3 separate regions of the Homo sapiens genome follow, and all the other regions are linked to region 1. The links come from fine-mapping of genetic effects on gene expression. A gene starts in region 1. Each other region holds a variant in brackets. All regions are shown on one strand. Distances are from middle to middle. Region 1 holds the start of S100A3 (S100 calcium binding protein A3). Region 2 has its middle 37 kb from the start of IL6R. Region 3 has its middle 25 kb from the start of S100A6.

Evidence for each region.
Region 2: its variant is fine-mapped to the expression of S100A3 in esophagus mucosa (GTEx, PIP 0.98).
Region 3: its variant is fine-mapped to the expression of S100A3 in whole blood (TOPMed, PIP above 0.99).

The regions. Positions count from the first base shown.
Region 1 is chr1:153,547,943-153,550,701 of GRCh38, reverse strand. S100A3 (S100 calcium binding protein A3) reads left to right here and starts at 1,444. Exons shown (of 3, transcript NM_002960.2): 1 at 1,444-1,521; 2 at 2,212-2,357. The coding sequence starts at 2,217. It overlaps LOC101928034 (a long non-coding RNA gene), which reads right to left. Exons shown (of 3, transcript NR_125947.1): 2 at 1,587-2,281. RefSeq lists enhancers at 231-792, 1,356-1,917 and a silencer at 1,095-1,389.
Region 2 is chr1:154,367,038-154,369,796 of GRCh38, reverse strand. No RefSeq gene overlaps it. Among named protein-coding and RNA genes, the nearest start is that of IL6R, 37 kb to the left of the region's middle. The variant C/T (reference allele first, on the strand shown) is at 1,344.
Region 3 is chr1:153,509,795-153,512,553 of GRCh38, reverse strand. No RefSeq gene overlaps it. Among named protein-coding and RNA genes, the nearest start is that of S100A6, 25 kb to the left of the region's middle. RefSeq lists an enhancer at 2,711-2,759. The variant C/T (reference allele first, on the strand shown) is at 1,482.

The DNA of each region.
Region 1 (2,759 bases):
ATTCCCATCACCTGGGGTGGAAGGGCCAGAAATCTCAAGCTTAGACTCTGGAAGTGCCCCTGGGAGGAACACACCTCCTTCCTGTGCCTCAAAGACATCCCACCTGATGATTTCCCCCCTGGGAAGCAAGCAGTTCACAGCCAAAAGCTGGGATCTGGTCAGGCAAGTTCAGACTTCTCGTCTGTAAAGGGGAGGCTTAGCCACGTGCTCTCCAAGTTCTACCCGGAATAGAGATTTGTAGGGGTGCAACCTGAGCGAGGCAGAAGTGTGTCCCCACTTGGTATTCTGGGGGCCTCTGCAGAGTGAAGAGATGGGGCTGTGATGTGATGGATAAGCCAGACTGTCTCCTCCAACTGAGCTGGAAGGACTTGGCAGGAGACTGTCCCCTGTTCCCAACTCTGGGGGAGGGCAGATGGGGAATGAAAGGGGAGTGGTGTCTGAGCCCAGACTGGCCTTTGATGTGTGCGTGGATAGGTGGGCAGGTGGGGCCTGTAATGGGTCTGCTGAGGGATCCCTGAGGGCATCCTCAGTGTTGACCTACTTGTGTCCCCCATAATTGCTTCCTTCCTTTCTTGGGAGGCTACAAATAGTGACGCCCTGTCTCTAAGCTCCTACAGCTGAAACGCCAGCACCAGTGGTGAGTGCCAGCTGCTTGGGTCCTGCCCTGGGTTGAGTGTCAGGGCAGTTTGGGGACCCCCAGTAGCCAGCCTGACTCCTGACCCAGGGTCTGGCATTGGAAGCAGAGAGATGACCACAGGCGGGCCTGACACGGGGAGGGAAGTCAGATATAGTGGACGCAGAGGTTTCCTTACACAGTGAGGGGCTGTTGGGGAAGTTTGGGCAGGGAGGTGTGTAGAGCTAAGGTCTGCCTTGGGGTGGGAGCACTGGGCTCAAGGCTCTGGTCTTCCCCTTGATCAGGCCCCTCACCTGCTCCTTGCCTCCTTGCTTCACCTCTGAGTCTCCTCATTTCTGAGGATCATGGCCCTTTCCTCTCCTGGGAACCTGGACACCTTGCTCTAATCCTGGGGTGTTTACAATGAATTAAATCCTGGCAGTGCTTGGCACTCCCCACTCCCCTTCCCCTACTTTCCTGCCAGCCACAACCATGCCAGCCATTTGCTCCCAGCAGGGGGCCCAGCAGTGGGCAAATCTTCAGGGAGAGTCTTGGCCCTGGCCGCCCTGTGCTGCAGGACTCTTGTCCCGTGGGGGAATCAGGAGTGAGTCACTGGGCTAGCATGGAAAAAACTCTTGCCTTCCTGGCTGCCTTCGGGTTTTCCCAGGCTGGAGGCATCATCCCAGAAGGGCGGTGGAAGGGGACAGTGGAAGTGGGGGGAGGTGAGCAATTCCAGGAAGGGCTTCCCCTCCAATAGAACAGAGTATCCCTATACAGAACCTCCCTGCTCAAAACCCCCAGGGGTCGGGAGGGTAACCTCAGGGGAGGCCAGTCTCAGATTGGTAAACACCCGAACTGGTCAACTCTCAAGAGACCATCTGGTTCAGGTTCCTGACTGGGCCAGCGAGGTGAGATGAACCCCAACTTACAGATCAGGCCCCGCCCCTGAGACCCAGAGAGACAAATGGCTCACCAAGGTTGCACAGCTGGCGACAGGCAGAGAGGATCCCACAAGTTTTTCTTCTGGGTGCAGCTTCCTCGAGTTCAGGGCAGGAGGCAGGGTGAGGGCAGTGGTGGTGAGGCTGTGGGGGCGCCTCTCAGACCTGCCCCTCCCTGCTAAGGCCTAGCTTCTCCAAGGGCTGAGGGCAGAGAAGCACAGGGCCAGGCTCTCCTTGTGCAAGTTCCTGCAGGGAGGGAGGCTTCTAGGGCATCTCATGGGCTGGGGCAGACTGGGACCGAGCCATCCCTGGGTGTTGGGGATAAGAAGAGGTGGCAGATAATCTGAGAGTGCTTAAGGAGCCCCACGGTGGGGTGTGTGGGTGGTGGGGTAGGATGCTGTCTCTCTGAGGAGTTTACAGCGATGTTGGGGCAATGAGACCTCTACATGGGGAAATAACAACAGGACAGCAGGGGGATAAATTAGGAGGGGCTGGTGTGGTCTGGGAGGGCTACTCAGAGGAGGGGGAGACTGCGGGGCCTGAAGCCTGATGGAGGTTAAGATGGGTCTGGGAACAGTCTCTGAGAAACACAGAGGGCAGAGGTGAGCTGGGGGGCTGGCCTGGAACTCTGCTGTGAGCCACACCCTTGTTCTGTGACAGTGAGGATGGCCAGGCCTCTGGAGCAGGCGGTAGCTGCCATCGTGTGCACCTTCCAGGAATACGCAGGGCGCTGTGGGGACAAATACAAGCTCTGCCAGGCGGAGCTCAAGGAGCTGCTGCAGAAGGAGCTGGCCACCTGGACCCCGGTGAGCAGTCAGAGTGTCCGTCCCCTCCTCCTCCGGGGGGAGGCACTGCCTAGACTCTGCAAAGAGAGACCTGGGGACAACAAGCATGAGCACAGGACAGCAAGGGAGGGGGCTGGATTGTGAGGAGGGAGTGGGAGGGGGAGAACTGACACAGCAGAAACCTCAGCTTCCTCATCTGTAAAATGGGATGACAATCATCCCTGCTGCCTTGCAGAGCTGTTGAGAGGACTGAGTGAGAGCACCATGAAGAATGCCTAACACTTGGTAGGCACTCAGTAGCAAATAGTAGGTGCTCGATTAATAATCTGAGAGGACAGATTTGGGAGGGGATTGCAACGAGTGCATTATCAGAGCAGGGAGGTTGAAGTCGGCCCTCAGAAGGGTGTAGTTTGGGGTGGGGTG
Region 2 (2,759 bases), 820 kb before region 1:
GGCACGGTGGCTCACGCCTGTAATCCCAGCACTTTGGGAGGCCAAGGCAGGCGATCACTTGAGGTCAGGAGTTCAAGACCAGCCTGTCCAAAACAGTGAATTTTTATATTTCTACAAAAAATACAAAAATTAGCAGGGCGTGGAGTAATCCACGCCTGTAATCCCAGCTACTCGGGAGGCTGAGGCAGGATGATTACTTGAGCCTAGGAGTTTGAGACCATAGTGAGCTAAAATTAAAAAATATATATATATATTTTTTGAGACAGTATCTTTCTGTCACTCAAGCTGGAGTTCAGGGGCAAAGTCATAGTTCACTGTAATCTTGACCTCCCAGGTTCAAGCGATCCTCCCACCTCAGCCTTCTGAGTAACTGGGACCACAAGCAGGCACCACAACGCCTGGCTAATTATTTATTTATTTATTTATTTATTTAGAGACAGAATCTCACTGTGTTGCCCAGATCTCCGCTCACTGCAACTTCTACCTCCTGCGTTCAAATGATTCTCCTGCTTCAACCTCTCAAGTAGCTGGGACTACAGGCGTTTGCCACCACGCCCGGCTAATTTTTGTATTTTTAGTAGAGACAGGATTTCACCATGTTAGCCAGGCTGGTCTCAAACCCTGACTTCAAGTGATCCACCAGCCTTGGCCTCCCAAAGTGCTGGGATTACAAGTGTGAGCTACCATACCCAGCCCATAATAATTATATTATTTTATTTATTTTGAGACGGAGTCTCGCTCTATTGCCCAGGCTGGAGTGCAGTGGCATGATCTCAGCTCACTGCAACCTCTGTCTCCCGAGTTCAAGTGATTCTCATTCCTCAGCCTCCCTATTAGCTGGGATTATAGGCACCCGCCATCATGCCCGGCTAATTTTTGTTTTTGTTTTTGTTTTGAGACGGAGTTTCACTCTTGTTGCCCAAGCTGGAGTGCAGTGGGCGATCTCGGCTCTCTGCAACCTCTGTCTCCTGGGTTCAAGTGATTCTCCTGCCTCAGCCTCCCGAGTAGCCTGGATTACATACATGCACCACCACAGCTGACTTATTTTTTTGTATTTTTTAGTAGAGATGGGGTTTCTCCATGTTGGTCAGACTGGTCCCAAACTCCCGACCTCAGGTGATCCGCCCGCCTCAGTCTCCCAAAGTGTTGGGATTACAGGTGTGAGCCACCGCGCCTGGCCCAATTTTTGTATTTTTAATAGAGATGTGATTTCGCCACATTGGTCAGGCTGGTCTCTAATTCCTGGCCTCAGGTGATCCACCCACCTCGGCCTCCAAAAGTGCTAGGATTATGGGTGTGAACCACCACGCCCGGCAATAATTATTTTAAAAAGGAAAGTAAGC[C/T]GGGGAATGGAAAATGAATATGAAATGGTACAGCTGCTGTGGAAAACAATTTGGCAGTTTCTCAATAAGTTAAACATAGGATTGCCATATGACCAGCAATTTTACTCCTAGTATATAACCAAAATAATTGATAACAGGTGTTCAAGTCAAAACTTGCACACAAAAAAAATTTTTTTTTTGAGACAGAATTTTGCACTTGTTGCCCAGGCTAGAGTACAATGGCGTGATCTCAGCTCGCTGCAATCTCCGCCCCCTGGGTTCAAGAGATTCTCCTGCCTCAGCCTCCCAAGTAGCTGGGATTACAGGCACCCACCACCACGCCCAGCTAAGTTTTGTACTTTTAGTAGAAATGGGGTTTCACCATGTTGGCCAGGCTGGTCTCGAACTCCAGACCTCAGGTGATCCACCTGCCTTGGCCTCCCAAAGTGCTGGGATTATAGGCGTGAGCCACCGCACCCGGCCACACAAAAATGTTTATAGCAGCCCTATTCACACTAGCCAAAGGTGGAAACAAAACCAAGAGCAGTGGTGCGCCTGTAGTCCCAGCTACTCAGGAGTTTGAGGAGGGAGGATCGCTTGAGCCCAGTAGTTTCAGGCTGTGTGGTATGGTATGATCATGCCTGTGAATAGCCACTGCACTCAGCCTGGGCAACATAGCAAGACTCTGTCTCTAAACAAAATGGTTTTTTGGCCAGGCACGGTGGCTTACACCTGTAATCCCAGCAGGCCTTTGGGAGGCCAAGGTGGGCGGATCACGAGGTCAGGAGTTTGAGACCAGCCTGGCCAGCATGGTGAAACCCCGTATTTACTAAAATTACAAAAAATTAGCAGGGCATGGTGGTACGCGCCTGTAATCCCAGCTATTCGAGAGGCTGAGTCAGGAGAATCACTTGAACCCAGGAAGCGGAGGTTGCAGTGAGCTGAGATTGAGCCACTGTATCCCAGCCTGGGCAATAGAGCGATACTTTGTCTCAAAAAAAAAAAAAGAAAAGAAAAGAAAGAAAAAAGGGGTTTTTTTGGCATAGGATCTGTCTGTCGCCCAGGCTGGAGTGCAGTGGTGTGAACACACAGCAGCCTGGAACTCCTGGGTTCAAGTGATCCTCTTGCTTAATAGCGTCCTGAGTAGCTGGGACTACAAGCATGCATCACCATGCACAGCTAATTTTTCAATTTCTTTCTGTTTTTTTTTTTTGAGATGGAGTTTTACGGTTGTTTCCCAGGCTGGAGTGCAATGGCGCAATCTCGGCTCACTGCAACCCTGCCTCCGCCTACTCAGGAGTCTGAGGCAGGAGAATTGTATTTTTGGTAGAGACGGAGACAGGGTTTCACCATATTGGCCAGGCTGGTCTCGAACTCCTGACCTCACGATTCGCCCGCCTCAGCCTCCCAAAGTGCTGGGATTACAGGCATGAGCCA
Region 3 (2,759 bases), 38 kb after region 1:
TATATGTAAATGTTTTCAGAATTTATTGCATTAAAAAACACTGGAACTGTGTATTTAATATATTTTGAAAAAAATTAGAAAAACACTGCAAAACATCAAATAAAACACAAAAATTTCAAATCTCCAGCCAAGCAAAAAGCCCCATGTGCCTGCTCTTAGTCTCTTAGGTGAGGGAAGAGACTTACTAATAGTCTGTCCTGAGGAAACCACTCCCAGGAATGGGTCCAAACTCCTTTTAGTGCACACCTCCCTTTCCCCCAAAAACAGGCATTACTATTTTCCTACCAAATTTTCCTATGAAGGCATAATTACCATTTTGATGACAACACACAGATCCTTCCTGCTGATGTTCAACTTTTGCTAATGTCCCTTACTTCTTGACATCCTGGGTATCCTTTCCTCCCCCTAGTTACAGATTGCTTGTGCAAATACGTTAATAAATACCGCTTTTAGCTGTGAAGTTATTAAGAGTGTGAGTTATTACAGATTGTTCTGTGGCTGGAGCTCAGCGCTGGACTATGTTTTATGTTTTGACTGGTGCCCTTTGTGTGCAGCTCAGAGCCACAGTGTTAGTTTAGGAAAATACAAATCTACCATATGCAATGAATGATCAGGAAACTGTTGAATTTGGTGAGTAACAACTCTCTCAGAGGCCAGGCACTGTGGCTCACACCTGGAATCCTAGTACTTTGGGAGGCTGAGGCGGGAGGATCACTTGGGCCCAGGAGTTTGAGACCAGCTTGGGCAATATAGTGAGACTTTGTCTCTACAAAAAATAAAAAAAAAATTAGCCTGGTGAGGTTGCTTCTGTGGTCCCAGCAACTCAGGAGGCTGAGGTGAGAGGATGACTTGAGTCCCAGAGGTCGAGGTTGCAGTGAGCCATGTTCATGAGACTGCACTCCAGCCTGGGTGACAGAGTGATACCCTGTTTCTAAAAAACAAAACAAAACAAGACAAAACAAACAAAACAAACAAGAAACAACTTTAAAATGTTTGGAAGAAAATATAGAAAAAGATCGTTATGACCTTGGGGGTGGTGAAGGTTTCCTTAAGCAAGAAGAAAAAGAACATAGCCCAGAAAACGCTTTACTGCATTTAAATGAAAAATTTGTGTTAATCAAAAAGCACCATTAAAAAAATACAAAGCTAGACTCTGCCTCAAACAACAACAAACAGACAAAAAAACTTTCCAAGAAACTGAGAACCTTAAAAAAAAAAATCTGGGAGTGTGGGTGTCAATCTCCCCAGCCTCCTGCCTCAAATTTGGGAATAAAAATGAGACTTTCCCCCCACCTTTTTTTTTGGTTCTCCCATTTGAGGTCAGGGCTTGGGCCTGGGAATGAGGGAGCCCACAGGGTCAGGCTGCCCCGGGCCCTGGACACTGGCATCTACCTTTTCCTCCACGTGGCAGGAGACCGGGCCAGCCTTGGGCTGCCACTACCGGTCCTTTGGCTCCCCCTGTTGACCACCCAGTCTCCAAT[C/T]GTCGTGGTCTTGCCTGCGGAGAGGCCTGAGGGGTCTAGCAGAGTGCTGGGATTGCCAAGGGAGAAACTGATGGCCAGATGTTTGAACAACAGCTGGCTGGAGCAGAAGCCAGACCCCTCTGCTCTTCTTTAGGGTCAAATCTCAAGTCACATTGTCCCAGTGATGGGCAGCCCTGCCCTGTAAGGAAAAGACTGAGCTAGACTTCTCATTCCCAATTTGTCTTCCACATTGCTGTTACATTTGGCTCTTTGGGCTGGGTGCGGTGGTTCACATGTGTAATCCCAGCACTTTGGGAGGCTGAAGAGGGTGGATCACTTGAGGTCGGGAGTTCGAGACCAGCCTGGCCAACATGGCAAAACCCTGTCTCTTCTAAAAATACAAAAATTAGCCGGGTGTAGTGATGCATGCCGGTAATCCCAGCTACTCTGGAGGCTGAGGTGGGAGAATTGCTTGAACCTGGGAGGTGGAGGTTGCAGTGAGCCAAGATTGCACCATTGCACTCCAGCCTGGGCGACAGAGTGAGACTCACTCTCAAATAGCACCAATCAACCAAACAACAAAAACAACAAAAAGAAAACATTTGCCTTTTTTGCTAATAAAACTGATCTGTAGCTTAAAATCCTATATTGACTTCCTATAATGCCCATAGAACAAGATCTAACTCCTCAGGCTTGCACCCAAGGCCCTCCTCAATTTTGCCTCAGTCTTTTCTTCTGTTTATTTTTTCATCAATTTGCCCCCTTCCCTAGGCCTGGATCTGTGCCTTGGGCAGAGATATTTTTAGAGACAAAAGAAACCTTTGCTTCAGTTATGTGTAGAGAAGTTTGGGGTTATAACAACGTGTGAGTGCAAGGTGTTATTTGGCCTGATGGCTCAGGCAGAGGAATAACAGATTATGATGTTTGAAAGATTAAAGTGGAAACAAACAAAATGCACCATAGCATAATAAAGCCAGTATTAATATTTTACAAAGAGGATGTTGAAGTTGTATTAATAGGGGGATATGCTTCCTTTGTGTAGAAATACTGATTATTGTGGTGAGTGGTGTTTGCCAAGCACCAAAGTGGGGATAAAACATCCACTAGCCCCATTTCTATGGCGCCAAATGCACCGGCCTCCCTGCGGTTTGCTAAGGACACCCCCTGCTGGCAGAAAGAGGGAGCATGGCACACATGCCAGACACTTGCCTGGTCTCCTGATCTTGCCATGCCCTTTTGCACCTCCATGATCTGTTCATGCAATTTATTCTGTCTCTTTGTATCCTCCTCCACCCCCAG